Linked DNA regions of Homo sapiens: all the other regions are linked to region 1. The links come from fine-mapping of genetic effects on gene expression. A gene starts in region 1. Each other region holds a variant in brackets. All regions are shown on one strand. Distances are from middle to middle.

Region 1 (5,312 bases):
TTAGCTATAACAAAGTTCAGAATTAATCATGACACCATGCAAAATGGGAAAAATTTGCAAGCAAGGAGAGGGTGGAGATGCCAGAACCCGTAAATTTATGCCAGCTGAGCACTGTGGGGGCACCTGGCAAATGGATTTACTATTTTGCCAACACCAGTAAAGTGTTACAAAATTGCAAACGGAATTATTTCTATGCAAACAATTGTTTTTAAAAAGGGTCCCTACATCGACTAATGCAATTCAGTTTTTTTCTGGGTAAGCACAAAGCCAGAAACTAAATGAAAAATATTAGAAATTATTTTTCTTGGAATCATGTTGAATATTAAAATTGAGATTTACTTTCCTCCCCAATTCCCTCTCTCTCCCATCAGTCTTTTCATGCACCAATGTCATTTTAGTTTTCGTGGTAAAAGAGGTGGTGAAAAAGGGGCAGGGGCATTTGAGAGAGTAGGCGAAGGGAGGCTGGGGATTCCAGAAAAGGAAAAGATGGGGAGTCGCTCAATTAAACTCTACCACCTTCATCTGTTAACAGGGATTCTTGCCTGTCTCGACCCACTTCCAGAGGCAATGCCATATTATTTGAGAAAGCTGGATATAAAATTTGAGCTCTGCTGTCCTTGTCCCAATCCCCCTCCCCAGGAGAAAAAATAAGCTGAACTGTACTCGTGACATTATGGGTTTTTCTGGAAAACAAGGATAAATAAGTTTTTTGAACATTTTTCTCCCCTGAAACTAAATCCGTAAGAGAGTTAAAAACCCGTGGAAAGCGAGTTAAGTCACTTTTCAAGTCTTTGTACTCAGGGGATTCTGTAAGACTCATGGAAGAATAATGGCGCAAACAGCAATATTTTAATGTTAGAACGGTCCTCTGAAAAGTCTGCCCGAAACGCTACAAAGATAATTGTGCAGTAACTTCTAAAAACTCTACTGGGACAGGAGGCAACAAAACTCCGGATCAGCGAGAGCTCTGTTTATCCGAGGGTGCTGAGCCTCAGGCCCCACGGAGATTCCCTTTTCGGCACTTGGAGGCCTGAACTCAGGTCTAACCTTTCGTGTGCGCGCTCTGATACTCAACCACCGTTCAGTCTCCGGAGGCTGTTACAACTGTCCCCATTCTACAGATGAAGTTGAGGCTACAGCTTAGTGTTCTTGGGGAGGGAGGGAGTTGGGGGGAGAGAGAGACGCTTTTCCTCATAACCTTAAACAAAAGTACTTAAACCTAAAGCAACTGAAAAATGATTTTCTTTCAACAACGGTGTTTCCTTTGGGGTCAAGTTCTTTGATCTCATCTACAAAACCAAGAAGCGGGACAAGTATTTTTCTGCAAATTAGAACGGGGCGTTCCCCTCCCCCATCACCCCAATTCCAGAGGACGTCAATCACAGTGGACGCAGCACCGCGAGCGGAAATGCGGAGAGCATCGGGGCTCCGCATGTGGGGCACAATGAAACAAGAGCAGCCCCGGCCAGAGGTCCAGTAAAGCGGAAAGACGGTCCCGCCCGCACACCCCTCCGGAAAACTGAAGCGTCTCCTCTGACCCCCAAGGTCAGAAAGATTTATTACTTCCTTCGAGAGGGCGCAGCCACAGACCCACTAGAGAGGGCGGGCAGGGTGTCGGAAGCCAGAGAACGGCGCTCCGCGTCCTCCCACCGCTCCAGGGCGCAGAGGTGTCCTCAGTGCCCGGAGAGGTTGGCAGTGTCGGCCCCGAGGGAAGCGTGGAGCGGACGGCCGACAGGGGATTTCTGCCCAAACTTCATCACCAACTCTTTCTGAGAGCAAAAACATGGGGCCGAGTCCGGCAGCTGCACGCAGAATCCAACTCTCTGGCAGCTCTCGGCACCGACGAGCTCCAGATCCCGCGTTCGCATCCCGGCGCTTTGCGCGCAGAGCTAAGCCTTCGGACCCGTGGACTGCAGCCCCCGCGCGTCGCGGTAAAGCGGGTCGCGTCTCCAGCCCCCGAGGCGCAGCGACGGTGGGAGCCGGCTCGGCGTTGGGGGCGGGGGCGGGGCCGGCGAAGGGGGAGGGCTGCGCGGCGGAGGGGAGGAGCCGCGGCGACAGACGGCGGCGCGCACCAACCGGGCGCCGGCTGGCAGGAGCCGCGCAGAGGCTGGTCCGAGCGCGTTGCGGGCGCCCGGCGTAAGGGGAGTCGGGTAGCAGCATCCTCCTGGGCGCCGCTTTCGCGCGGCGGCGGCGGCTGCGGCGGGGTCTTTCTTTGCTTAAATACCTCGTTGGCCAGAAGCGCTGGTACCGGGGGCGGGTTGGGTCGGGTCGGGCAGTGCTGCACACCTGGGTTTCCTTGCCTAGAGCTGTGTGTTCGGGGTCCTTTGGTCCAGTCGGAGGCTGCGGAGCGGCGGGGGTTGCCTGCGCTGTCCGCCCGGGCATCCTCCCGGTGATGGAAGCAGCCGCCGCCGCCGCTGCGGGGTCGCGCTGTGCCCCATCCACCGCTGCCAGAGAGGTGGGAAAATTCGCCGCACGGAGGCCGAAAGCGAGAGGGGCTGCGCCGCTATGCCGGGAGCTGAGTCCCATATAAGCCGCCCCCAGCCATCGCCCCCAGCCGGCTTCGTTCCCCTGAGCGAGACAGGAAGCTGCGGTCCCGAGAAAGCGGAGGAGACGTCGCTGGAGCCGGGAGGCGCCGGGTTCGGCGGAGCGCGGAGCGGGGCTCTGGGCCGCGTGAAAGTTTTTCTTCCCGAGCCGCAGGGCGCCCGCTGCCCGGAAACTGCCCAGGGATAAGTCGGCCGACTCCCCAGACCCCTCGAAGGTGCGGGGACCCCCAGCGGAAGCGAGAGGGAGCGAAATCGAGGAACGAGTGACAGCCGGACAGTCCGCCGGGCGGTGATCCGGGGCCGCTCCCGGGCGCGCCCTCGGCTCCAGGTGAGCGGAGGAACCGGGCAGAACCGAGGGTGGGCGTTACTTAGGAGGAGGAGGCTGGGAGGGAGATTGGGGCGCATCCGCTCACTCCGCTTCCCCTCGCAGGTCCTACCCGGAGCCGCTGCCATGGGAGAGCCAGCCTTGGGCGCTGGGGACCAGCCGCCGCGCCCGCCTCGGAGTCGCGGCCCGAGTCCCGGCGCCAGCAGCCAGCCCGCTGCGTCCCCTTCCCGGGCTGCAGGGCTGCCTCCGCCGCGCCGCCGGCCCGGATTGTGCCTGTGATGAGCCGCAGCCCGCAGCGAGCTCTGCCCCCGGGCGCGCTCCCTCGGCTGCTCCAGGCTGCGCCTGCAGCCGCGCCGCGTGCCCTGCTCCCGCAGTGGCCCCGGCGCCCAGGACGCCGCTGGCCCGCGTCCCCTCTCGGAATGAAGGTGTTCCGTAGGAAGGCGCTGGTGTTGTGCGCGGGCTATGCACTGCTGCTGGTGCTCACTATGCTCAACCTCCTGGACTACAAGTGGCACAAGGAGCCGCTGCAGCAGTGCAACCCCGATGGGCCGCTGGGTGCCGCAGCGGGGGCAGCCGGAGGCAGCTGGGGGCGCCCAGGGCCGCCTCCGGCCGGGCCGCCCCGTGCTCATGCCCGTTTGGACCTCCGCACTCCTTACCGCCCTCCCGCTGCCGCCGTCGGGGCGGCTCCTGCAGCCGCGGCAGGGATGGCGGGGGTTGCGGCCCCTCCAGGCAATGGCACTCGGGGCACCGGGGGCGTCGGGGACAAGCGGCAGCTGGTGTACGTGTTCACCACGTGGCGCTCTGGCTCGTCGTTCTTCGGCGAGCTATTCAACCAGAATCCCGAGGTGTTCTTTCTCTACGAGCCAGTGTGGCATGTATGGCAAAAACTGTATCCGGGGGACGCCGTTTCCCTGCAGGGGGCAGCGCGGGACATGCTGAGCGCTCTTTACCGCTGCGACCTCTCTGTCTTCCAGTTGTATAGCCCCGCGGGCAGCGGGGGGCGCAACCTCACCACGCTGGGCATCTTCGGCGCAGCCACCAACAAGGTGGTGTGCTCGTCACCACTCTGCCCCGCCTACCGCAAGGAGGTCGTGGGGTTGGTGGACGACCGCGTGTGCAAGAAGTGCCCGCCACAGCGCCTGGCGCGTTTCGAGGAGGAGTGCCGCAAGTACCGCACACTAGTCATAAAGGGTGTGCGCGTCTTCGACGTGGCGGTCTTGGCGCCACTGCTGCGAGACCCGGCCCTGGACCTCAAGGTCATCCACTTGGTGCGTGATCCCCGCGCGGTGGCGAGTTCACGGATCCGCTCGCGCCACGGCCTCATCCGTGAGAGCCTACAGGTGGTGCGCAGCCGAGACCCGCGAGCTCACCGCATGCCCTTCTTGGAGGCCGCGGGCCACAAGCTTGGCGCCAAGAAGGAGGGCGTGGGCGGCCCCGCAGACTACCACGCTCTGGGCGCTATGGAGGTCATCTGCAATAGTATGGCTAAGACGCTGCAGACAGCCCTGCAGCCCCCTGACTGGCTGCAGGGCCACTACCTGGTGGTGCGGTACGAGGACCTGGTGGGAGACCCCGTCAAGACACTACGGAGAGTGTACGATTTTGTGGGACTGTTGGTGAGCCCCGAAATGGAGCAGTTTGCCCTGAACATGACCAGTGGCTCGGGCTCCTCCTCCAAGCCTTTCGTGGTATCTGCACGCAATGCCACGCAGGCCGCCAATGCCTGGCGGACCGCCCTCACCTTCCAGCAGATCAAACAGGTGGAGGAGTTTTGCTACCAGCCCATGGCCGTCCTGGGCTATGAGCGGGTCAACAGCCCTGAGGAGGTCAAAGACCTCAGCAAGACCCTGCTTCGGAAGCCCCGTCTCTAAAAGGGGTTCCCAGGAGACCTGATTCCCTGTGGTGATACCTATAAAGAGGATCGTAGTGTGTTTAAATAAACACAGTCCAGACTCAAACGGAGGAAGCCCACATATTCTATTATAGATATATAAATAATCACACACACACTTGCTGTCAATGTTTTGAGTCAGTGCATTTCAAGGAACAGCCACAAAATACACACCCCTAAGAAAAGGCAAGACTTGAACGTTCTGACCAGGTGCCCCTCTTCTTCTTTGCCTTCTCTTGTCCTCTTTCTCCTATTTCTTACCCTGTCCTCCACCTGCCTTCCATTTTGAAGTGGGATGTTAATGAAATCAAGTTCCAGTAACCCAAATCTTGTTTACAAAATATTCGTGGTATCTGTGAACATGTTAAGAGTAATTTGGATGTGGGGGTGGGGGTGGAGAAAGGGGAAGTGGTCCAGAAACAAAAAGCCCCATTGGGCATGATAAGCCGAGGAGGCATTCTTCTAAAGCAGACTTTTGTGTAAAAAGCAAAGGTTACATGTGAGTATTAATAAAGAAGATAATAAATAATATTCTTTTTAATATTTGCCTCCA
Region 2 (5,312 bases), 96 kb after region 1:
TAGAGTATATGCCCTAAATCAACATTCATTATATGATGCTATTTCCCTAATAGGTAGGGTACATGAGTCTGAGAAGTCAAGGGTACATATAGTGGTGGTACAGTTTACTGTCACTTTCCGTGGCCCATTTGAGGAATTTTTGCTTCCATCTCTACTCTAGGTCTACAGTTCCTGAATTTATCCACTAGGCAACACTGTATAAGTCTCATTAAACTTTAAACTATGAGTGGCACCTAGTCGCTTTGGAATCCTTATACCAGGAGACCAGCAAGTAAGGAAAAAGAGTCACCATTTTTGCAGAGTTAATTTACCATAATACCCAGAAGGAAGGACTAGTGTTTCACAATGGGGCAGGAAAGAATATGTTTGGCACCCAAGAAATTGAGTTGACTCTTGTCTGGCTAATTTTGAGGGTAAGTGGTCAGGTGCAGCTTGATGGCCTAAAAAGAGCATGGTAACCAGGAATTTAGATCTGTCAGGAACAGGGAACTCAAGATTGGCAGCGTTGCTAGCTCATGGTGTGGGACATCTAGAATAGGAAGCTGAGGTATCAGTTGAAAGGCTGAGTATCAGTTTCTGCCAAGGTAACAGCCCCCCCAGTTTGCCCCAGACTGTCCTGGTTTTATGACTGAAAATCTTGCATCCCAGGAAACCTCTATGTTCTAGTTGCAGACTGGAGACCAGCTGCAGTGGTGGGATCTGTTAAGTTCGCCCCACTAACCTTTCCCTTGCAAGCTTTCCCAGGAAAAGAGACCAACTGGAATCCTGGAGGAGTTGCTTCTAAATGGGATAGACTTACAAATATGAAGGGAGTGGATTTGAATGGTACAAGGAGTGGAGTGTAGGGAATGCTGTAGTGCACCCAGATCCTTCCTTCCCTATCAAGGAACTCATTCCCCAGAAATGTTGCCTGCTTATGGCTCATAGATAAGTCCCTCTTCAAGAATTTCCCTCAGTCAAAGGGAAGCTACCTTGTCCAAGGTCATGATCTAGGGTAAAGCCTGATTTAGTAACTGGTCAATGCAGGGGTAGGAAAGCCTGGCCTATTGCTTCACCTTGGGCCACTTGGAGGGCCATCCCAACTTTATGATTCCCCACGGGATTGCCTATGGCCTTTCTTGCAATTGTATTTCATTTCAACTTCTTCCTCTGTCCTGTTTCTTTCACTCTCTTATGGGAATTGTTCCCAAGAACACTCCACAGTAAACCCCCTGCCTGCCATCTCCATCTCAGAGTTCGTTTCCTGGGAAAGCTAGTCTGCAACATGCCATTTCATCATCTTGTTGCACCTGGCTGAACCCTTTGCAATGGGTCACTGTATGCAACCACCATAGTTAACAGATGTGATATATAACAGAGACTCCCCGTGTCTCTGGTTATGATACACGGCCACTAATTTTTCCATAATTTTTTGGCTTACCGACAACTTTTTTTATGTTCACTATTTCCTGCCAACCCACATTAAGGAAAAAATGCATATATAGTTGCCTTATAATCTCCAGAACACATTAAAAACACTCAAAACAATACTTTGGTTTTATACTTGTAATAAATCAATACAGATTAAGCATAATTTATTATGTTCACATTTCTTTTCCATTACAATTGCCATTTTGAATAATTTATATTAGCATTTTTGTTTTGAGTGTTATTGAGAATTCATGGCCTTTCATGTACACACAAAAACTTATTTAACTATAAAGTGTGATATCAATCTGTGCTCAAATTATCATAAGTTCCCCAGTCAGAGTCTCTTCACACAGGTTCCATTTACTTTTAATACTGACCATAACACTCTTTAAAGCTTCCTTACTTATTCCAGACTCATCTGAATTTTCCTTTTCACAAAATATGGAATCTTCTACCCTCAAAGGATCCTGATTCTTCTTATAGACCAAGATTTGAGTGCTAGGAGTAATATCTTGAGTTGCTGATTGGCAGGATGCAGTTGCTGCTATTGGACCACTTTCAGAAATGACAACATTGGAGAAGATAAATTTGTGTTCTCAAATTGATGTTACCAATTTGACACTTCATGTTGTTTTACCTTCTTTACTCATGGTTCCATTGATCACTAAGACTTTGTATCATATTTACAGCCTTATTTAATTTTTATGATAATTCTCTGAGGTAAGCATTGTTATCTCATTTACAGATGAGGAAGACGAGGCCTATAAGTTTAAGTGACTTGTCTAAGGCCAGAGGAACAAGTGGCTGAGCAGAACTGAATCCTAGCTTTTCCAAGTCATACTTTCTTGTAGGACTATACTTTTATTCACAGGGCTGAAGTCCCAGAAGCCAGGTTTCCACTTCCAGACCCTGCCTCTCTGGCCAGAGTTGATTGAACTAAGAGTGGATACCTGACCCAAGCTGGACCAACTAGATTTTTTTCTTCCAAAAACTCGGAATTAAGAATATGACTAGTCAGCCTGGGCTGGTCTTTTGAAGAGATAGGATGGAGTCTTGGGAGTTGATATTGTTACCTTCTGCTCATACGTATATAGAGACGCTTCTAGGCTGGCCTGCAGAAAGAAAACAAGAAGCAGATTGCCAGATAGATCTCCTCTTTTTGGCTTCCATCCTTCCCTTATTCCACCTTCCTTTTGGCTCCTGAGATACTCCTATATCTTCCTAAATTTCTTTTTTTTTTCCATATTGAAGCCAATTTGAGTTACTTTTCGTTACTTACAACCAATGAGACTTAACCAAGACAGAGGTCCTCTTGTCTGGTCATGTTTGTGGTGCTCAAGTGTTGCTGCACAACCTTTTCTCCCCCTCTCCCTCCTCCCTTCCTTCATCATTTCTCCCTTCTTTCCTCCCCCTTTCCTCTTTTTATTTTTTTCTCCCAAGACTGCATTATAATTGTGCATTCAGATTACAGAGAATCCCTGTTCTAACCCAAAGCCATTTTCCTGCCAGGAATCCCAGAGCTACAAACTCTCAGCTTCAGAGGGAAAGTGAAACTGAAGAGTTTACCTCCCAGAATATAGCTTATAATCTGTTGTCTGAAGAAAATAAGCAAAGTCATTGTTCTTCCCTAAAGGCAGCCTCCTCTTAGTTAAGTAAGTATGTCTAGTTCTATTTACGTGAGCGTCTGCAGCTCCTTTCACTGAGAAGGAAATAACAAGCACCTAGAAGACAAGAGAAAACAAGACAGGATTGTGGCCTTTTACATGTGTTTCGTCATCCTTCTTCAAGAGTCTTTAATATAGAAGAAGAGAGATTTGAC[A/G]GTCCCTCCACCTGTTAGTGAAGAAGAGTTAAAATGCAGTAGGTTTGTTTAAAAGTATTTGATAAATTCCCACTCAATATCAATATTCTTGCTTGCTGTGGCAAAGGGAAAACAAACAAAAAGAACCTGGAAATAACCCAGATTTTTGGAAATAGGTGAATGGCTGGGCAAACTATGATACAGCTGCACTTTAGAAAGCTGAGCAGTTATTAAAAAGAATGATTTACAGCAACATGTATTATAGGAGGTGCTCTATCTGGGGCAAAGCCTGCTTGTTACACCTCCCCTCCTAGCTCCTCATAAGTCCACCCCTTTCAATGATTTTTCACTGGGTACATAGCTGCCAGGAAAAAAAGATTATACTTCCCAGTTTCCCTTGCAGCCAGGTATAGCCATGTGATCAGTTAATGAGATATGAGGGAAAGTGAGATGAGCAACTTCTCTGCTGTGTTTTTAAAAGGAGGTGGAGAGTGGGGTGGGATGCCCTTTCTTCCCCCTTTCCTCCTCCATCTTATTTCCTGGAACCTGGCTGTGATGGAAAACTAACTTAGGCCATGAGGATGAGGGGTACTGCTTGGAGAAGGTGAACAATAAAACAGAAAGAGCTTGGATTCTTCAATATATGGCACAGAGTTCCAGAAAGTCCCTGGACTTCTGTTAAGTCAGGCAGAAATAGACTCCTTTTTTAGAAAAAAAAAATTAATTTTAATTCTAATTTTATTTTTAGAAAAAATTTCTGTGTTGTTCATTTGAATCTCTGTTACCTGGAACCAAAGCCAGAGTCTAATTAATACCTTATCTAAGTAGAAATAGTAATTTAGTTGTGCAGTAATGTGTGTGGTATAGTATCTTTAAAAATATCTGTGAAACAAACAATCCACCTTGTACATATGCATATGTGCCCAGAAACATTGAAATGATCATGAAAATGGTGGGAAAGTATATGGCCAAGTTTCTAACTTGGATGCCCTTAGGGGTGGGGAGGGAGGAGGGTGTTCCTGTTTTTCTTTAACATCTTTTCTTCTTGTTGTTTGACTTGTTATAATAATAAAATCTCTTTTTAATTTACAGAAAAACATTATTTCAAGTCTTCTTGAAATAGGAGCAGCTAACATGAAATTGCTTATTTAAACCATGCAGTTGAAGGCTTTTGAGGCAGAGAAGCCCAGCATGTGCTGCTATGGTAGGGAGCTGCATCTGTCCTAGAGCTTCCTATCTGTGGGGTCGTTCTCTCAAACTTGCTTCTAGATAGAGGTCTTGCTGGCTCTTTTATGTGGTTGGGTAAGTGCTATTGGGGGAAGACTGATTATTTTGCATTTAAAAAGAAGAACTATTGTGTTTTTCACAAAATTGTCTCTAGATTTGCTTCCACTGTGGAGTGATTACGGGAAGAGGTGGACAGAATGAGTGAGGGGAATAATTAAGCTGCAGGAAGGCATCTTTCTAGTGATTCCCAACCAGCTGGCCACATGGCCCAGGCTCAGGGTGAGAAGCTCAGGGTGTGTCACACAGCCCTGCATTTACTGCCCATGATGAATACAACAACATCACCCACAGGGTGCAGAGACAGTTACATATTTGTTGATATGGCCTCAGTTGGAAATGAAAATTTGGAAATCATAGGCATCTTCCAGGTCAGTAAGCAGCAATAAAAGCTTTCAAATGCCTTTTCCAAGTTTTGTTAGAATTGTATGTGTGTTTGTGTGTGTGTGTGTGTGTGTGTGTGTGTGTGTGTAGAGAGAGAGAGGAAGAGTATATATCAGACTTTTAAAGTGTCAGACTCAGTTCATCTCTCCTAGATCCCAGAAAGGCCCAGAAAGGAAACACCTGGGTGCATTAATGGAGATTCTCTACAGATGCAAATTCCCCCACAAAAGGCAGTTTTGCAAGACCACTTCAGTCTGCTGGCAGCCATTTCAAAATATGTCAAAGAAATATGTTTTGGGGTAAAGTATTTTGATTTCTTTCAGTTCCCACTTTGAACTTAAAATAAGTTTCACGTATTAAATGCCAACCTGATAGCTTTGGAGAAATTTGGGTTAGAGGTTGTTAGATAGAGACAAAGGAATGGAAACACAGATTG
Region 3 (5,312 bases), 120 kb after region 1:
GGAGCTCACATAAATAGTTTAAGTCCGCCGGGTGCAGTGGCTCACGCCTGTAATCCCAGCACTTTGGGAGGCTGAGGCAGGCGGATCACTTGAGGTCAGGAGTTCAAGACCAACCTGGTCAACATGGTGAAACCCTATCTCTACTAAAAATACAAAAAAAAAAAAAAAAAATTAGCCAGGCGTGATGGCAGGTGCCTGTAATCTCACCTACTTGGGAGGCTGAGGCAGGAGAATCACTTGAACCCTGGAGGTGGAGGTTGCCGTAAACCGAGATCGCGCTACTGCACTACAGCCTGGGCAACAAGAGTGAAACTCCATCTCACAGGAAAAAAAAAAAAAAAGAGTTTAAGTCCACCTTCTCAGCTACTTGTCTTAGGAGTACTGAAGACTCTCAAAGAATAAATGCCAAGATGCATTGGTATATCAACCTTGACTCTAGTCTTTCTCACTGTATATTATTGTTTAGTTTTTTTTTTTTTTCCCTAGACGGAGTCTTACTCTGTCACCAGGCTGGAGTGCAATGGTGTGATCTCGGCTCACTGCAACCTCCGCCTCCCGGGTTAAAGTGATTCTCCTGCCTCAGCCTCCCGAGTAGCTGGCGCTACAGGGACGTGCCACCATGCCCAGCTAATTTTTGTATTTTTAGTAGAGACAGGGTTTCAACATGTTGGCCAGGATGCTGTCGACCTCTTGACCTTGTGATCCACCCGCCTCGGCCTCCCAAAGTGTTGGGATTACAGGTGTGAGCCACTGCACCTGGCCTATTGTTTAGTTTTTATGTGCTAGTTTTCATTGTCAAGTGGCTTTGCAATAGTTAATACCATCTCCTCCACTTCAGTTTTATTATTATTTCCTGTTTCTCTGTAACAAAAAAGAAATTTTGACAACACACAAATACATCTGTAGATCTGGGGTACTCTTTGAAAACTTGTGGGTTTTTACACTTTTTAACAGATTAAGACTTCTGAATCTTCAATTTACCCTGAACATAATTCAGTTCTGAGTATCTCTGGATTAGCTTACTTTTCAAAGTATTTATCTTCAGCGCACTGAGGGAGCCTTATATTCTCTACCTAGTTTGTTGCATTTCCAGAATTTTTGTACCTTGTTCCTTTAAGTAACAGAATTAAAGCAATGGGGAGGGGGCTAAAGGTAGCATTTATTAGGAGGACTTGCCCCTCTCTTCCATTAACTTCTGCTGACTGCTTTTTCATTCAGTTATTATAGGTCAAAAGTTAGTTTTAGATAATGGTGAATGCCTCTTGTTTCTTTAAAGGATCTCTTAAGTACCACGAAGGTCATGCTCATTCCTTAAGTTAGTAAACTTGGCAAGGGAGGGTACTAGATGCATCCAAGGGCATATAGCAAATGAGCATCCAAGTCTGGGAAGAGTGAACATGTTGACGTGTTGTCACTGCAAGATTTTGCTAATTGTACCCAGATGGTCTGATCTTTTATACTTTTTGTGACAAACTTCCTCTATCAGTCATTGTCCTCCTTTATGACTGGATAGAGTTGTTGTTGTTTTTTTTTTTTCTCTCATAAGCACGGAAATTTGACCTCCTTTAAAGCTGACTCAAGATCCTTTAATTCATAAACTTGTACTCCTTACATACCCAAGACACGGTAAATGGGACTCACAGCTCCTCAGACTTTTTTCTCAGGTGACACCAGCCTGAAGATGAATCATAAATGCCGATTTGGACTCAATGTCCCGAGATCCCCAACATCTTCTCCTAGTAGTTCTCAACTCCTCTGCACACTTGAAAGAAAATTCCGGAACTTAGGCCCAAAATCCAAAGATGTGTGTTTAATTGGTTTGGGGTGAAGCCCAGGCCTGGTTATTTTAGAAAACTTCCTTGAATGATTTTCATCTGTGGCCAGGGTTAAGCATATTTTTGGCTATCTTGCCAATTTGGTGCAAAACCACTTCATCCTGAAAAGCAGGCGATGTAGAGCCATGGCCAAACAGGTCAGAACTTTGCTCTATTTTTAATTTAAGCCACATTTATTTTACACTGCAGATGCCAAAGCAGAATCCTTGGCTTATCCTTGGGAATTACAGACTGATGATATAACTCCTCTGTAAGGAGACAGACGACGCAAACAGAATCACTGAAAAGTCTTCTAAAGCAAGGGGTTGGGTGGAATTTGAACAGAACAAGCTGGCATGCCTTGGGAGTGAGTAAAATTATGCTTCTTGAACCTGTCAGAAGTCCTTGAAATAAAGCAGTAGATAAAAGGAACTAATGGTTATAATTTATTTAGTCTTTCCTGAGGCCCTTGGTTGTTCAAAAGAAGGGGACTCGGTAACCATGGAAGTAACTGGAGAGCTACTAGGGATTAAGGGCTGATTAGGAGATGGGATGCCTTGAGTCAGGAACACATGGCCATTTTCAATGTGGTCAGGTTCGGTGGGGACCCACACAATAAACTGATCAACAAACTGATTTTTAAGATTCTTTTCTTGTTTTTATTATCCATTTTCAGAGCATCCTTTGAGAAACAAGGTGACTCAAGCACCGGGGTTATCAGCTCTCTGACCTCCTTCTGCCCACCTGTCTCAGCTCATATCCTTCCTTTCACCCCTGCTTGTCCATGACAGAGCAGCAAGGTCAAATGACTGTTTGTCTGGCTTAACCCAGACCTTGATTCACATTCTGAGAATGTAAGCTCTTCTAAAGTGCTCTTCATAGCACGCTGTTCTTTATAAAAAGAACCATGGAC[A/G]TTGTAGGAACTGTTTTGAAAGGCTGATGGGTTGTGGTAATCCACTTAATGACAGGCAGACAAAGCAAGAACTGTAACCTGAAGAGCTGCTTAGAAATTACGTGTCTCTCCTCCCACCTCCAGGGCCTGCTACATTGGCCTGGAGACCTCATGTTGCCAGGCTGACCCAGGCCCCATGTATCTTAGGTCTTCTGGAAGATTTTGCTTCCCCAGCATCTGCTTCTACTTCTTTTAATCCTAGCACTGTTGTTTTGGCAAACTCCTCATCCCCCAACTCTCAATCCATGGAATTCAAGCGGGAGCTGATACTACTTCCTCTTCCCCTCAACATATATATCTGAGCTCCAAGGGTGCGCACGTTCCTTGGCCTGGCTAAAGCATGCTACATTCCTTTGGCTAAGTGACTGGTCTAGGGATGGTTACCTGTTTCAAAATGGTTCAGTGAACTTTGGCCTACAGATCTTGTTGGAACTATTGAGAAAGAGACTCTCTCTGTGCTAAGCTGGTGATCAGGGACCACCCTGAGGCGGATTGCTTCTTGACAAAGAGAAAGAGAACAGAGGAAAGCAAAGAGATGGAGCAAGACAATTCTTGACATCTTTTAAATACCTGGATCCAGTCATATTTACCAGATATGCTTACCGGATTTTTCTGTTATGTGAGTCAACAAATCTCTCACTCCACCTTTTTCTTGTTAAGCTTGATGAAGCTGTGTTTCTGTCACTCATAGGATCTTTCAATAAGAGGCCCCTAGTATATACCTTCTTGCACACCTTAGTGTCCTGTCCCATTGGAAACAGTTTTCCCTGTCTCCTTAGGGGCAGGCTAAGGGCAGGGGTACACGTTGAGATAATCTGAAAAATGAGTCTATGCCTCTGAACCGGCAGGAGAGGTATAGGGTGGGGTGGAGGGTTGTCTCAGGTGAAAGGTTGATTTTGACAGCAGTTTCCTGGAGCCGATGGTTCTCCCTTTTTGATAACCTCAACAGAGTAATTGTGAGGATGCAGGGAAAGAGGGGATTGGGAATGAATCCTTACGAGCATCTTCTAAGTGTCAGATACTGTGTCAGGTGCTTAACATAAGGTATCTCACTCAGTTCTTACAACAATCTTGTGTATATCATTGTCCCATTTTCACAGGTCAGAAAAACATATCAATAACAATAGCTACTATTCACTGAATGCTATGCTCCAACATTATTTATAATTCTACTTTATCCATTACAATCATAATAATCTGCAAGATATACTATAGATATATTTTAAAATATAGATTATTATCTATATTTTATAGGTGATGAAACTAATGTTCAGAAGAGTTAGGTAAGTTGTTCATGGCCATGCGGCCAAAGAGGACAAGTCTGTATTCAAAGAGACCTCATTTGGAAGCCAAGCTTGATATGAAACAGATTTTGACTTACAGTCTTGTGACAGGTGTGGCTGGAGAGATATTCAGGCTAATGAGGGCCTCTCAGCATGCCTGACTTCGGAACGGGAGGCACAGTCAACAGGACTGTCATGTGTGGCGTTGACCCTCAGTGCCACCTTGGACCTCGGTATGCTGACCACCAGCTTCAGTTAGGACCTTTGGTCAGGTTACTTGCCAAACAAGATCTAAAGGAATTCTCTACCCAGAACTCTATAAAAACAAGAAGAAGAAATAATTAAGAACACCGTGTAGAACAACACAGCTTTCATTCCAGTTTATATATTGTAAAATAAAGCCACACAGATCCTAAACATGCTAGGTGCTCTTTATATTTGAGAATCTGGTGTCAATTACTCATTAAAATGTCAAGTTGGCCGGGATTGGGAGGTGTCTGTTGGGCCCTATTAGTATTCTCTCCTTACATCGTGCCAGTCCTGGGAATTGTGTTGGTCCATGTGAATGTCCTGTGGTGACCTGAGTGCCACACTAACCCAGGCCAGCCCACTTCACATGTGTATCTTCTTCCTGAGGCAGAGTTGGTATCTAAATTACAAAGACTTCTCTTGTCTTTGAGAATGCAGCCACTCAGAGCTCAGCCTTTAAGGATTAGCAACTGTATTTCAGTTGTGTGATTTACTCCTGTTCCCACCCATGGCTGTGACACTTGTGGTGGGCTGAATAATGGCTCCCAAAGATAGCCACATCTAAATCCCTGGAGCCTGTGAATATGTTACCTTACACACTGAAAGGCACTTTGCGAGTGTGATTAAGGCTATTGAGATGGGACTATTAGGCTGAGCATCCAGGTGGGTCCAATGTAACCACGGAGTCCGTATAGAGCAGGGATCAGGTGATCCCAGTTAGTAGCAGGAAACGTGATGACGGACGCAAGAGGTTGGAATGATGCGAGGAAAAGATTCTGCGCCAAGGAATGCAGCTAGCCTCCAGAAGCAGATAAAGGCAAGGAAACAGACTCTTCCCTCAGATCCTCGGGAAGGAACCAGCTTGCCTACACCTGGGCTTTAGGTCAGTGAGACTGATTTTGGACTTCTGACTCCTAGCACTGTAAGGTAATAAACTTGTGTTGTTTAAGTACACAGCACACAAGGTAATAAACTTGTGTTGTTTAAGTACACAACACAAGTTTATTACCTTGT
Region 4 (5,312 bases), 480 kb after region 1:
AGAGTTAAGAGGAAATTAAAGCTTACTTTTAAACTATTTTACACTTACTGGCAGGCAGGAGCCAAGTGGTTCCTATAGTCTCAAATGTAGAGATTTATCAAAGCTGTAAGGAAGGTATGGCGCTAAAAGGTGCAGAAAACTGGCTTCAATTAACATTCTAATCATCACTGTCAACGCCATTATGCAACTCTGTGTAGAGTGGCATATTCGGCACTGTGGGGTTAAACATAAGCAGTGGGCGCTGCCTTCCCTAGAATCGCAGTATCGAGAGCTGTTGTCAACAGCTCAATTCGGGGCCTGCAGACAAAAGGTTCTGTACCCACTTACCAATTCCCTGAGCTCTCCAGTCCCTGGTAAATTGCTTTTGAACACATTCTCAACTTTTATCTTTTTTTTTTTAAATGAAAATGTTAGTGGGTAAAATCCAGTATAAGGGACACATTATTCTGAGAGCATAGCTTTCCCTACCGATACCAGCGTCATTTCCACTGCTCTGTAATAAGTAGCTGCAGCTGTTGCCATGGCGATTTTCATTTTTAAAAACTGTATCCATACAAAGACAGGCAACGCAGCTGTTTCCATGAAGCATCACGAAATAAGCCCAGATGTAATGGCACTCCTGTCTTTTTCCAGAATTAAGGAGATGTGTCTAAAAGTCCAGGTAGAGCCAAAGGATGGGGCTGTAGCTGTGCCTTGAGAGGAGCCTCCTGCTTTCACTTGAAGCTCAGGACACTAATGGAGGGTAAATTAGTGGCGCTAGTGAGCGTTCAATTTCTACCCAGTTTTCTCAGGCAGATTCTTTGTACCAGTGAATCACTATTTACACTGTGATTATAACTTCCTCCAATAGCCTCCTTTGAAAAAGACACCGTCTTCCTCCAAATCCGCACATGCTACCCCGGAACATTACAAGAACAAGCACTGCTGATGGGGCTCAGTACTTGTTTTTCTGAAGTCCCGTGGCCTCCTACCTACATGTTATTAAAATGCTGCAAGCAAGCAAGTCAACACAAGTTTTTAAAATCATTCTCCACTTTCCAGTTAGAGGAAGCGTGCTGCCTGCTGCTGCCCTTGTCCTTTAATATGGAGGGAGTTTGGTTTTCTCTGTGTGTGGTCTGGTAGGCACCAATAAGGACAAAAAGATACCTGTCAAGCTCACCATTTCCTGAACAATGGTATTATCTTTCTCAGGGAACAGGAATCTTTTGTTTGTTTCTATTTTTGTTTTGAGGCCATTGATTTGCTAGCCAAGCCAGATGCTGAAAATTATGTAAGTAGAACCCACAGGTCGCCTCAATCCCTCATTCTAAACAAGATTCAAATGAGTTACCCCCTCACTGACCTGGAGAGCTATTTCTTCTGTCACATAGGTGCAGTGCACCAGATGGGACTGTGGCAGAAGAATAGTTAGGTGAAGAAAGCCTACCGTGTGCCTCATGGGGAAAGGATTTTAAAAGAAATTATATTTCCTGTCCATAGTCCTCCATCTCATATAACTATTTAACTCGTAAAAAACATAATTATGTTTCTGAATTTCTTTATATTTTGCCAATCAGTTACAGCTATTTTGTTGTTACTAAGAGCATTGAATTATAAACAGTATAAAACGCCAAATGCTCAGGAATCTAATAATAAAAGGACTTTTCCTGGAAAGCATAAGTAGTTCTTTTCTTCTATAAGGAGAGCCTCTGTTTGCAAAGAAATACGGCTGTGCTTAACATCTGAGTAGTCAGCAATCTTAGTGGTGGTGGTTGCTATTAATTGTAGTTGAGATGTGACCTACACATAATCCACAGAAGCCGTGGGGCTTTATGAGCACAACAATTGCCTGTGTTTGATTCTACCTTGCCAGGGATACTCTCCAAGATCCTGCAAAATATCATTTCTCTCCTTTGCACTATTGAGATGCAAATGGCGCTACTGGCTGACCACCGACAAGCTTTATGAGCAATAAGGAATCCAAATTCCTTCAAGGCATCCTTAAATATTAAAATGTCATACATAAACAAAATATGTAATGAACTTCAAATAATTACAACAAACAAAAATCTTATGCGTCCCTCAAGACCTGTAAGAAATCAAAGGGTCTCAGAATATTTCATCTGTCTTATCATCGAAGTAAGATATCAATGCCTCTTTCCATTTAAGAAAAATCCCAGAAACCAAATCAAAACAAAAAATTCTGGAGAATGCACTTGTCCAACATAAAGCAACTAAACAGTCACTGTCCCGATTATTGTTCTCTGGCGTTTTACCTACCAGCCCGGTACTGCTTCCAGATGTTTTGCTACCTTTTTTTTTTAATTAAAAAATTTTTTTTATAATTATACTTTAAGTTCTGGGATATATGTGCAGAATGTGCAGGTTTGTTACATAGGCATACATGTGACATGGTGGTTTGCTGCACCCATCAACCCATCATCTACATTAGGTATTTCTCCAAATGCTATTCCTCCCCTAGCCTCCAACCCCTCAACAGGCCCCGGTGTGTGATGTTCCCCTCCCTGTATCCATGTGTTCTCTTTGTTCAACTCCCACCTATGAGTGAGAACATGCGGTGTTTGGTTTTCCGTTCCTGTGTTAGTTTATTGAGAATGATGGTTTCCCATCAACGATAGATTAGATAAAGAAAATGTGGCACATATACACCATGGAATACTATACAGCCATAAGAAAGGATGTTTTGCTATCTTAAAGAGAAGCAAGAACTGAAAGAAATTCCCCTGGATGGAC[A/G]AGAATTCTATAAGTGTGTGAAAAATACAACAAGTAGAACTCATTAATTTATCAGATTTTAATATTAACACATGGGTAAGTTGAGCTTTAAAGCTAATAACTCTACTATTTCTAAATATCAATGATCTGCAGAGATTGGTGACATTCTTATTCCCTACATAGAATTGAGATCACCCTCCCAAAACGCAATAAATCAGAGAGGTTGATCAGCATGAAAATGTCTATGTTGGTCAGCAACCATGGCTAAGGAAAGAATTAGGAAATTATTTCATAGCTATCATGAGGAGCTAAAATAATGAAATATAGGAGATATAGACTGTTAAATTAACCATAAGGCTGAAAACATTTTCTCCACAAATGTTTTCAACTACTTCAAATCCTCTTTTTCACTGTGCCCAAGGCTAAGTGAGAGGAGACCCACTGGGCTGCCTCTCTCACTCCTGGCAGGGCTTGCTGGAGATCAGAAGAATAATGCAGGGAGGAAGTTCTGTGTGATTTATTTCAACTGAGCATAACAAAGTGGTGAATGGGGATGTAAGCGGAAATGTTGCAAGTGTATTTGTGTAAGCACACATTTCATTTCTCTTAGACATGGGAAGTTGAGGGGAGAAACAGTCTCAATAATGACAGTGGGGGGTTATTTTTCAAAATGTCTTGTCTTTGATGTAATTCTGATATTAATGTTTCTATTGAGATTCATGTTTATTCATTCAATGAATATTTACTGAGTACCTCCTGACAGCCTGGCCCTATTGTAGGTGCTGGAGATATGCAAGTGAATATGACATGGAAGGACTCAGGGAGATAGGCAATAAATATACAAATTAACAATCAGTCTTTTGAGATGGGAAATCATTTGTAACCCTCCCCACCCCCAAATTTAAAATAATTCAGAATTTAGAATTACAAAGGGACTTCAACAATATCTCATCTGCATTTCTTCATATTCCCATGAAATAAATTTTGTGGTAAGCTTCATTTTGTAGAATTTGGAATTGAAATTCAGTCAAGTTGAATGACTTGGCGAAATCCATTTCAACAGTCAATGGGGGAGCCAGCGTTTCTATTCTGCAGAACCTCTGCTCTTTCACTGTATCACACACCACCTCCACAGATTGTTTTTAACATTTGTGCTTCTATGTGCAGTTTCAAAATCTGGTATTAAACCACTTTCCAAATTCATGTATTTAACCCTCCCACCTCTGGTGCCAACTCAGCGCTGCAGATTTCAAATAAATCATTGCTTTCAAATTAAGTTTACTATAAAGAATCTATTGGAAGGTAATTTGATAAGTGGCTACATCAGATGAAATGTGAACATGACTTTGCATGATCACTGCCCCTTCTATAGGCTTTTCTGGAGGAAACACCTTCACTGGTCTCGAGACACTCTCACTTTGCTACATGGCATTGTGCCATGCCCCCCACTGTTCCAACATCCCCCCTCTACCCTCACTGTTCCTGCAGTACCCCTTGCTGCCATCATCACTGCACTCACACTCCCCTGGCTCAGACTTGCTCTGCAGTTCCTGGAGAAATTCTACTTTGTTGCCTTTCCAGCCTATATACAGCAGTATTCCCATGTCCTTTTTTGTTTAAATTCTTAGCCAATGTCTTTCTCCAAGTTTTAAAAACTAATTGTTCCTACAGGTTTTATTTGTCCTTAATATTATCATGTAAGAAATTAACTTTGGTGTTGTGTCATTTATTGTCTCAAATCAGCCAAGAGTTAGAGGCGAGCAGGGCTGTTTGACCACATTGTTTTGGCATGTCCAGGGCTTGTTCACTATGGGACCAGCAGCACGTAGCCCAGTCTGGAGCAAAGAGCCTCCTTCCTGTGCATGCTCCTGACATCAGCTAAGGTTCTGGCTCAGGCCCAAGAACTAGGTCAACACATTTCAAGATCTCAACGTGAGATCTGGGTGAACGTCCACCTCTTAAGATGTTCTCTCCAGTGAGGAAGGCCAGCTGGAACAGGTCAATTGCTCGAAACATTCACTAGCTGCCTTTACAAGGACTTAGTTAATTTTAACAATTCTTTTACCCTCTAGACATTTTTAATGCTTAAATATCTTAATTTAACTGTTTAATAATAGTTATTGTACTTTAATAAATATTTCATTTATTTTAAATGTTTTAATAATTTCTTTTAAAAGACTAGGAAATATAGACACAAATGGGGCAATTCTATAGTCTAAAATTATAGAGGTTAACTCTGTTTTTCCTGGTTGAATATGGTATCTGATGCTTAGCTCTGTATTATTGGGTAAGTTGCTGAAGCTACCCGTACAATAGGGATAATGATAGCACTTGACTTCCCCAAAGAAACCCCTTTAACCTTGGAAAACGATTCCCTTCATTCAGTTTCAACTCTGTCCCTGAGGGCCATTTAAGATGCAGCCCTCCTAAAAATATAGCATTTGAAATGGCATTTCCAAGATTTGTGGATAAGAATGCTGATGACCACATGTGAGCATAATGGCGCTTTAAAGCCAAGATTTCCTCTTCCATAGTCTATGCACAGAAATCTGCAGCCTCAAGCTCTTAAATTCTTGAACACATTCAGGTTTTAAGGAAAC
Region 5 (5,312 bases), 260 kb after region 1:
TAAAATGGGAGTGATATAGGTATCTTGATTGGTCAAGGTAAAGATTAAATGTGATTATGTATATATACACATAGGTATATAATTGTTAATCACTTAATATATAAAAATGCTTATTAAAGTATAGCTGCCACCTTCCACTTCTTCTTCCTTATTATCATTCCTACTTTCTAGAACATGTACTTGCAGGAACTACCGGTAAGATAAAAATATAGAATTTAGAATTTAGTCCTATGCAGTAAAAAGTTAGTAGGGGGAGGACATAATTTTGAATCTAAAAGCCATAAGTAAGTATAACCAAAATAAATTCAATGTTGGCCAAGGGAAAACCCAAGATATTTTCTCTGAAATGTTTATTTTATTTTTCTCAAAATACCATTAGTTACAATGACATTGGAATGACATAACATTACAAAAGCTCTCACCTGGGTCACATCAAATTTTGAGACTCGTATTCTATTTCTGAAATATTCGTAGAAGTGTAGTGTGAAATTTACACTCTATGAGACTAACTCCAACAGTACAGGAGCAGTAAATGCAGAAAGTATGGAAAAATGTTGATAACTGTTAAGTTTGGGGGATGGGTATGTTAAGATTCATTATTCTCTTATCTTTGTGTTTATTAGGAACATTTGAAAATATTCACAAAGAAAAATTTTATTTAATGACCATGATGACCCCACTATCTGCTAAATTAATCTCTTCCCTTCTTGAACCTACTTATATTTCCAACTCTTGCAACTCTGGAAGGCCCTGAATAAGAACTATCAATTGTGCAAAAGAACAAATACTTTTATTATTCACCCATGGCCTCTTCCAGGCTTCAAAGGTATTCCAGGTTATGGTTTTCTGGGAGTTAGCAAACAAGTCTTCATTCGCTTTACACCTTTCATATTTTTACAGATACTTTGTTGTGCCCCTTCGTAGTTCTAGTCTTTCTGATGGAAAAATCCTAATCCTTTTAATCCCTGCTGCTCTGGCAGCAGGTCCCTCTGTCAGTTATTGAAGTTGCCCTTCTTCAGACCTTTCTCAGCTCTGCTGACTTTCATGTGCTGCAGTGACCAGAACGGATCCACCCAGGTTACACACAAGAATAAAGGACAACCAAAACCAGAATTTCAATGAAGGGACTTTCAGAAACAAAAGAAAATTGGAAGGTAACGTCGAGAAACCATTAAGTAACAAGCATAGTGTTAGAAAATGAAATTGTATGAAAAAAGATGAAAATTATCCTCATCACAACAGCTGGCAGGGTGGAATGGGGAGAAATTTATTTTAATGGGCTAATTCTATTACTTCCAAGCTCCAAACCAAACCATCAAGGGTGTCTATCACATTAGAAAAAAACTCAAACCTAACACCATGGCCAATGGTCTGGCCCCTGCCCCTGTCTGTTTCTCCCACTTTTTCTCCATCCGCTCCCACCTTGCTTACTCAGCTCCAGCCATGCTGGCCTTCCTGCTGCTTTTGTGCACACCATAACCCACTGTGACTCCAATGCCTCCATACTTGCTGTAGCCTCTGCCAGACTACCTCTCCTCAACCCCTTCTCACATGGATTGTTTCCTCCACACATCATCTGGCCTCTGATCAAATGCCACTTCTACCCTGACCAAGTAGCCTCCTCGCCTGTTCTCTATCCTCTGACCTGCTTTACTGTGATCATGCTTTGAATGTATAGAATGCAGTTTACCTTTTTCTTATCAGTGTCCCCCAATAGAGTATATACTCTGGGAGGAAGAGAGCTTTGAATTGGTAACTCCTGAATCCTCACATCTACGTTAGTGCCGTAGGAGTGGGTACCAAGAATTACTTGTATGAATAAATGAATGAATACATGCACGCATACCAGTTAAGAGTGGAAGCTCTGGAACCAAACTGTCTGGGTTCAAATTCCACCTCTCCCTTCTGTGTGTTCTTGGGCAAGTTTTGTCTCTGTGTACAATTTCCTTATTTGTAAAATGCAGATAATTATAGTACCCACTCAGGGTTATCTTGGAAATTAAGTGAGCAAACGCATATAAGGTGCTCAGAGCAGTGTTAAGAATAATAGCTAGTGCCCAACGAATATGGGAGTGAGTACGATCAAATGGCAAAAGGGAAAAAGAGAAGCAATACTGGCAGCCTTTCTTGAGTAGCAGGAGTTTTCTATTAAAGGACTGAAGGCAAGTGTGGTGCTCCAGTGACTCTCACCTACTCTGAAAAGGTGTGCTTTCAAGTACAAGGAATCAATTACAAGGGAAACTTCCTGTTGTGTGGGAGGCTACCTGAGGGTTTTGTTTTTCACATTTAAGAGGCATAAAATTCACAACTGCAGTATCTTCCAGTTCTCAAATTAGCACGTTTGCATGAAGTATGCATCCAGAGTGTGATATCTGCATATGGAACATGCTCTCTAAAGCTTTTGTGCCTGGTACAAATAATTGTGTAACACCATTCACATTCTAAAGGTATTGTATGGCAAAAAGGAAAGTTGTGACATTACTAGTTAGCCACAGCTACAAGTTCACATTCCCAAAAGTTATTTTACTTTCCACAGCAGAGAACAAAGAAGAAATTTAAAAACATATTAATATATATAATTTTAAATATATATATATAGTTTATTCTTGATTTTGAGAGTGTATAATCAGTAACAGCTATAACTACCTGCAAAATTTTTAGCCTTTGGTAAGTAAGAAGGGTTTCTGTGTATGTGTTAAGGCTGCCCATTACAAAGATTAACCTATTTGTTAATGCAAACCCAGTTTAATAAATGCAAATCAAGGGGAAACATACAATCCTCCTAAGAATTGGGGTTATGTTACATAATCCAACAGAGCAAGAGATGTTGATAATAAGACAGGTGTTGCCAGGCAAAATGAGAGCAGAGAGGTTCTTGACAGTTTGGGAAGTACCAAAAAACGGTCCAGGTTCAGTGGCAGCTGTGAGGACACTGCAGCTTGTTACCTCCCATCAGAGCCCACTGTTTCCTGTACTTGATACTGAAGATAAGCATTATCCCAATGTGTGGAGAAAACCTCTTTCTGAAACGTAAGTTCTTTGGTAATCGAACATTATCATGAATAAGAACACTTACAGTATACTTCTTAAAAATGAAATCATTTGTAGGTAGCAGCAGTTCAGGAGG[C/A]GCCATGTCAATGATAACGCTACTTACTTAACATTTAGATAGTGCTGTATGTGTCCTCTACAGGAGGCCCCAAGTGAGAAATGTCTTTAAAAACATAGTGATGTTTCGTGTCACTTGAGGAGAGGGTATTATTTTTCCTTCTAATGATGTGAATTTAATATATTACCAATTATTATTTCTTTATTTCCCCTTTGGCCATCAGAAAGCTTACTTATGGTTTGACTACAGTAAGTCTATAAGGCCTTATGATCTGCTTATCCATGATTCTTTATACCCCTCTGGTTTTGACTATCTGCTCTTATTAATATTTTTTACTGATTTTTAAAATTTCTATAAAAATATGTTACTATTATATGTGGTGGTTTAAGCTGCCTCCAATCATCCATAAAATGAGATGGGTTTAGCTTAATTAAGTTGGGTCATTTTCATAAACCCAATTTCCCTTGATTATCATAAATAACATCCTGGAGAGGCAGACGTTATTATCATTTACATTTTATAGAGAGGGAAACTGAGACCCAAAGGTGTAAACACCTTGCCCAAGACCCAAATATCACAGAATTTTCACTGTTCTATGTTATGCTATCCTATTTCTCTAATAAAAAAGTAACTTTAATTGCTATAATATCTTCAGGTAAGGGTTATTACTGATTTAACAATGATGAACTTTGTTTTAAAGTGTCACATGAATGAGATAAAATAAAATACATTTAAATTGGAAAGGATTTAGGCTAGTAGGAAATTTTTACCAATAACAGTATATGTGATTGTAGAATATTAGGCAGTTAGAAGAAGACAGAGAATTTTATTTGATGAATTTTATAATTGTGTCTTTTCTTCTTTTAAAGAAAAAGGTATACAAGAAGGACAAAATTTAGATAAAAGTTTTCTTGAAGGTAGGAGAATGAATTATTTGACCTACACAAGATGAAAATGCTTTTTAAAAATCAGCCACCACCAGACATTACTGACTATTCATTATAGCCCACCAGTGTAAGGAGATGGGCTTTGATCTCCTTTCTAAGGTCACCAGGCTGGCTCTAATCCCAGTGCTTTGGGCACCCCTGCTGTGCTCCATCCTGCAGTTAGGTGTGTTTCCTGGACAATGGAGTCTGTGGAAACTGCCTGGCCTTGGAACACATGTGACAAAAAACCTCAAAGTACATGAGAGCCAGGATCATCACCAACTTAATTTCCCAGCCTTTTCCACAGAGCACAGGCTCCTTTCTTTTTCACATCTGTGTGTGCCAGGAAAGCAGTGTCTTGCCCAGGAAAACTCACCAGTTGTGCCTCATTGATGGTGTTATTGGAAAAACAAGCATGAAATAAAAGAGAGGGATTCCCTTAGAATACAAATACGCTCATAACACAATTCATTAAGCAATATCACTTATTTATGATATTCTCCTATTATATCTATGTCTGCCTACTTCTAATTTCAGCAAAAAGGTGTAAAATTTCCCTACATTTTCTTATTTGTGACAAGTACTGAGTTTAAAATGGTAGTGCAAAACTGACATTGATAGATTCTACTTTGACGTTAGGTTCAAATTCAGTTTGGAGAATGCATTTCCCCTACTTGAGGTGATATGGTTTGGCTGTGTTCCACTCAAACCTCATCTTGAATTCTAACTCCCACAATTCCCATGTGTTGTGGGAGGAACCTGGTGGGAGGTAGTTGAATTATGGGGATGGGTCTTTCCCATGCTGTTCTTGTGACAGTGAATGGGTCTCACTAGATCTGATGGTTTTAAAAACAGTTTCCCTGCACAAGCTCTCTCTTTGACTGCCACCATCCATGTAAGATGTGACTTGCTCTTCCTTGCCTCCTGCCCTGATTGTGACGCCTCCCCAGCCATGTGGAACTGTAAGTCCATTAAACCTTTTTCCTGTATAAATTACCCAGTCTTGGGTATGTCTTCATCAGCATTATGAAAATGAACTAATATATGAGGGAAGAACTCATTGTTCTAAACAATTACCCCAAAGGATTTTCAGGTCTCTGTAGATAATTGTTGCTCAATTAAGTCAAAGGATGGATCACCTAGACAGTTTTTTGGGCCTTAGACCTGATAAATGAGAAGCTATCCAGGAGAAATAAGTCAATTTGTTGTTTGTGCAACATGCATTGGACATACTTTGTGTAAATTTCACTGAGTTGGCTAGCTAGCAAGTTGCTGGGTAG
Region 6 (5,312 bases), 490 kb after region 1:
AATTCTTCTGTGTCTTTTGTAAGACTATAATCAAGAACATTGTCTATGACGTCACTTCATGCTTTATTTCTCACAGAATTCGATAACAGAAAAAAACACATTGTTGATGACTTGAGTATTTTCTTTAACTGACCTGCAGAATCATAAAAACTGACGTGCTTTCCTTTTCACTCTGTTGCCAGGATGCTCTGAATAAAATTTAGTTCTAAATTAAGGTCTATTTTGTGCCAGATACACATTTTTTTTAAGAAAGTGATACAGTTTTTTACTTTTAGTTATCCTTTTTGAAATAAATATTCCTTAGCCCTGTAAGCCCACTCAAGTTCTTTATGGAAGTAATTAATTCAAGGTACTGTGAATTTGTTGATTCCCTGTTACATGCCAAGCAGGGTGCGAAGCTCTGGAAACACATAGATGAATAAGACAAGAAGTAAGGTTTTCTCTTATGGAGCTCAAAACCTAGTGATGAAGAGCTATGTGGAGAACCAAGCATAAAACTAGGTGACAGACACAGTCTTCATAGAGTAAATGTAGCAAGCTGGGAGTGCTAGTGAGAGAAGATGACTCCTGAGTTGGGATGGCAACCAGAACTGGGCCTGATGAAGAAGGAGAGGCTGGCATTAAGGCTCAGAGAAAATAATAGTTGTCTAGGATGTGGTGAAGAAGTTTAGTATGACTGAAGTGGGGTGGAGTGAAGGTGGAAGTATATAAAGTGCAAATCAAACACAATTAATATGCCTCCGAGTATGTGAGAACACAGTTTACATGGAAGAGATTGCAATACAGTAAAAGCTACTTTTTCCACATTAGGTACTGGCTAAATTATAAATAGCTAACCTACCAGAGAATAATAAAGCCATTTAATAACAGTTTACAGTACTCCCACTCAGCTGTGATATTGTTGAATTCTTGCAAAACAAGAAAGAAGCAATACTTTAGAACTGGAAACATGTCCAATTCTTATTCATTGCCCACAGATTCTGGCAAGTTTTCAATGAGGGCCCCTCCGGTTGAAACAAGTTAGAGACTGAATTCTGGAGGCTCTGCTTCTGCAGGAACCATTAAGCGTCACAAAGGGACAAATGCACCAACATGAAGCAGAAGTGAAAGCCCCTTTTCTGCTTGTCTAAACCACATGGAGCGCATTATGTTCATATTTACTACAAGTGGTCTCTATATTTTCTTTACAGGACTTTAGATTGTTGCCCCAAATAACAAATATACTTCCTTTGGAGCGCATCAAAAGAGCAGGGCCAACATCCTGATCTCAGTGTATTAAAGAAGTGCCTGAGTGCTCAAACATTCAGCAGCTAACCAGATTCATCAGCCCTTTACACATTTGGTAGGATTCTAATGGTGACTTCTTTGATGGTACACTATAACTTGTTCTAATCTTTAGAACAGAAGTTGCCAACTCAGGTGCCTGCAAGGCCACACCTGTGATGGAAAGGAACAACCTGTCTGTGGAACCCAGGAGAATGATGGGAACCCCAACACACCAAGCCAGCAGCTATTCCCACACACTGGCACAGGGCTGCAGTGTTGGAACATGAACTTTCTGGTTATTTTTGCTTGTTTGTTTAAGAGAAACTGAAAGTCTAAACCATTGTGTAAAATTTGCCAATTTTTAAATGTTGGCATCGCATATAAAAGATTTAAGCTGTGTGTGGACTAAACAAAGTACATCTGCAGATGAGATCTGGCCTGTGGACCACACATTTGTAACTTAAGCTTTAGACAATCATATTAGCAGATATTATCTCTGGCATATATTGAAGGAATTGTACAGAAACCACTTTTAAGGCCTCAAATTTGTTTTCGGTGACCTTATGACATCACTCAGTGCTGACAGGTGTATAGAACCGTGTTAAGCAAGTTATGCAACCTCAGAAAGCCATTAAAAGATGGTTCCAGATACAAGTACAAATAAGCTGATAGAGAAATCTCTCCTGCATTTGTGTATATAAATTATAACAATGTTTTAAACACATAGCTGAACTCAAATCCCCAGAGGTAAGAAACAAAGGGAAAACCCACAGTGAGAACGATAAGCTCTGCTCCATGCTATTTATAAAGAAAACCCTCACAAAAGATGTGTGGGTGCTGCTTTAACTGACCTGAAGAATCATATAAATTAATATCCTTCTCATTTCATTCTAACATTGTCTCACAAAAATATTTAAAAGATATACATAGGCTGGGCACGGTGGCTCAGGTCTGTAATCCTAGCACAGCACGTTGGGAGGCTGAGGTGGGTGGACCACCTGAGGTCAGGAGTTCGATACCAGCCTGGCCAACATGGCAAAACCCCTTCTCTACTAAAAATACAAAAATTAGCCAGGCATGGTGGCAGGCGCCTATAACCCCAGCTACTCAGGAGGCTGAGGCAGGAGAATTGCTGGAACCTGGGGGAACGAGATGGAGGTTGCAGTGAGCTGAGGTGGTGCCACTTCACTTCAGACTGGGCGAAAGAGTGAATCTCTCTCTCTCTCTCTCTCTCTCTCTCTCTCTCTCTATATATATATATATATATATATATGTATATAAAACCACTATGAAGGGAAGGCAGATAATTTAAAAACATTAAAAAGAAGAGCTAGTAGTGTAAAAAGATAGAAACAGAACAGCCTGAAAGATTTTCTAAAACAACTGCATTTAAATAATTAAAAATATCATTAAATTAAATATAAAATACAATGAAAGAATAGGACTCTAGACAATTTGAAAAAGGAAGAATTAAAATCTAGAGTGTAAACCATAGGCAATAAAATTGAAAACTCAGTTGGCACAGCTCAACCGAGAATTAGAACAGGATCTGAGGGAATCATCCAGAACACAGGTTAAAAAACAAAAAGATAGAAAGGTAAAATGTAAAAGAATGTTAATGGGCATGCAGAATAAATTAAAAAATAGTCCAACATATATCTGTTGCAGAAGAAAGAAGGTAGGTGAGAGAGGAACTATTCTAAGAAATTTTTTTTGTAGAACTGAAGAAACATATCAAATTCTGAGTGGAATAAGTAAAATAAACACTCAGATTTGCTGTAGTAAAACTGTACAAAATACAATACA[T/TAGAG]AGAAAGTAAAATATCAACCAGAGAGAAAAGACAGATTAGCTAAAAAATAGAATAACAATTACAGAGCATATTTTAAATCAATATCAAAAACAAAATAAATACAAAAAAATATAAAATATAATTACCTAATATCAACAAAGTTCTGAGGGAAAATATTTGTTAATTTTGAATTCTATATCCAGATAAACTATATTTCAAAAGTGAGGACAAAATAGATTTTTAAGCAAAAGAATAATAATTACTGCTAAATTACTACTACCGAGATAATTTACTAATCATATGCTTTTAGTAAGAGAATCACTAAAGGAAAAACTTCAGAAAGAATAAAACTGAACACAGAGGAAAGAGTAGGTGCATGAAGCATTGTTAAGCAAACAAACTGTTAAACATGTAGAGAAGCCAAAGTAACCACTAATTGTAAAATAATAATGATTACTGAATGGTTAAAAATAAGGTAGAACTAAAACACTAGCAAATTGATAGCATAAATAACGGAAGGGATGAAAATCATTAAAGCATTTTAATTTATACATAGTGTCCAGGATGATGCTAGGAATATTTGTTTATTTCAGAGCTTGTTAATTATGTATTCTATGTTAATTATGTAGGCTAAAATTTAAGGATAATGACTAAAATAATGGAAGAAACTAGAAAGAGTCACTCCATAGTAATAGAACAACAACAACAAAAGGGACATAGAGAATTCAATAATCAATCCAAACAAAATCAGGAAAGAGGAAAACAAGAACCCTAGAAAAAGCATTTACATTGAAAACACAAAATAAGGTATGAGATATATTTATATATACATATATAACAGATGTATATTTAATATATATAAATGTTTGGCATGTGATTTATATGTGTTTTAAATGTGTTATGTTTTATAGCACAAATATTTTTAACTTATATATGTATAATTTTCACAGGAGTACAAAGAGGTATATTCATATACAGAAGGATATTCACATGGCATTTTTGGAATACTGAAAAAATGACAACACCTCAAAGGTCTAGTAATAGAAAATGCGCAAATAAAGTGTAATATATAATGAAATATTAAACAACAGTTAACATGAATGAATTGTGTCTAGAATTACCAATATGGATAAATTGTAAAAGACATAATGGTGAAGAATAGCAAAAGCAAGTTGTAAAAGGATAACAGAGCAGACTCTTGACTGGCTACCTAAAAGTCATCAATAGCCTCCTTTTTTATTTTTCTGGTGATATTCTCTACTGAGGGTGCTGAAAAGTTAAAAGAATCAGCAACTTGCCCTTTCTTGCAGCAAGGGGTACATCAGTTCTAGCAAATAATATGCAGTGAACATCTGTGGGTGTTTTCCCCTTCCCAAAAAGAAAGATAAAACTTAACAAGAGCAAGGCTTTTGGCTGTTGGTCTTCCCTCTTTGTCCTCCCTGGAATGTGAACTTCTGAGGTTTAGTTTGCTAACTTGCAAGCAACAGGTGAAGAGTCACACACCAGGATAGTGAAGCAGGATGGATAGATGACATCAGCGGGCCAAGGACCACCACGGTGGGCTTTCCCTAGACTTCTTGTTATGCAGACAAACAATATTCTTAGTTCTTTAATATCCTGTGGAAGGACTTTTTTTCTGGTACTGGTAGCTAAATGCAATGTAATTGAAACATATAAGTACAGTATAATACCATTTATGTAAAATTTTAAAAATATAGAAATCTGTTATATATTGCTTATGGGTACAGACAGACATAACGCATATGAAAAACTGGTCAGGAAGGACCCACATTGAGGTTAAGATGTGGTTACCTGTGCAGAGAAGGGTGTTAGGGGAAGGGAAAGAATAGGGAGGAACAGGACTATGGCTGTTGCTATATTTTATTCTTTTAAAAAGAGTTCTAAAGTAATATCAATGCTGAAAAAGAATCTGAGTGATGAGTGCTAGTTTTTTTCTGTATATAGCTGAATTATTTTAAAACTTTTATCTAGAATAAAATAAATTTGAAATTACGTAAACTCCTTAGCTGTCTATGATGCGACACGGTTCGTTGTGGGTGGTGCTCTGTAATTCCCTTATCTGATCCATTTTTCTCACTCCAGTGAGTGAAAGCAGGGTTGAAGATGAGTCTATTCTCCATCAGACTGTGCTATGTATAGATCCACTGCAACCCTAGCAAATGACCTAAGAGAACAGATTCCTGGGAAGCTTTCATGTTGTGTCAGGGTAAGCAAATAACAGTTCTGGACACAGTGTTCC

The links. PIP is the estimated chance that this variant, and not a neighbour inherited with it, causes the effect. A credible set is the group of variants that fine-mapping cannot tell apart.
Region 2: its variant is the best candidate, but not a certain one, in a credible set for the expression of CHST2 in whole blood (TOPMed, PIP 0.56).
Region 3: its variant is the best candidate, but not a certain one, in a credible set for the expression of CHST2 in whole blood (TOPMed, PIP 0.74).
Region 4: its variant is the best candidate, but not a certain one, in a credible set for the expression of CHST2 in whole blood (INTERVAL, PIP 0.66).
Region 5: its variant is the best candidate, but not a certain one, in a credible set for the expression of CHST2 in blood mononuclear cells (TOPMed, PIP 0.62).
Region 6: its variant is the best candidate, but not a certain one, in a credible set for the expression of CHST2 in whole blood (INTERVAL, PIP 0.89).

Annotation. Positions count from the first base shown.
Region 1 is chr3:143,117,671-143,122,982 of GRCh38, forward strand. CHST2 (carbohydrate sulfotransferase 2) reads left to right here and starts at 2,101. Exons shown (of 2, transcript NM_004267.5): 1 at 2,101-2,871; 2 at 2,974-5,312. The coding sequence starts at 3,147. The coding sequence ends at 4,739. RefSeq lists enhancers at 1,157-1,658, 1,334-1,463, 1,659-2,158, 2,444-2,493, 2,817-3,458 and 1 more and silencers at 1,924-2,213, 2,704-2,753, 2,784-2,833, 2,884-2,963, 3,024-3,223 and 1 more.
Region 2 is chr3:143,213,938-143,219,249 of GRCh38, forward strand. No RefSeq gene overlaps it. Among named protein-coding and RNA genes, the nearest start is that of CHST2, 97 kb to the left of the region's middle. The variant A/G (reference allele first, on the strand shown) is at 3,230.
Region 3 is chr3:143,239,654-143,244,965 of GRCh38, forward strand. No RefSeq gene overlaps it. Among named protein-coding and RNA genes, the nearest start is that of SLC9A9-AS1, 100 kb to the right of the region's middle. The variant A/G (reference allele first, on the strand shown) is at 2,728.
Region 4 is chr3:143,597,720-143,603,031 of GRCh38, forward strand. The region is part of intron 6 of SLC9A9 (solute carrier family 9 member A9); the gene reads right to left. Among named protein-coding and RNA genes, the nearest start is that of SLC9A9, 250 kb to the right of the region's middle. The variant A/G (reference allele first, on the strand shown) is at 2,734.
Region 5 is chr3:143,376,453-143,381,764 of GRCh38, forward strand. All of the region lies in intron 13 of SLC9A9 (solute carrier family 9 member A9), which reads right to left. Among named protein-coding and RNA genes, the nearest start is that of SLC9A9-AS1, 37 kb to the left of the region's middle. The variant C/A (reference allele first, on the strand shown) is at 3,128.
Region 6 is chr3:143,603,923-143,609,234 of GRCh38, forward strand. The region is part of intron 6 of SLC9A9 (solute carrier family 9 member A9); the gene reads right to left. Among named protein-coding and RNA genes, the nearest start is that of SLC9A9, 240 kb to the right of the region's middle. The variant T/TAGAG (reference allele first, on the strand shown) is at 3,073.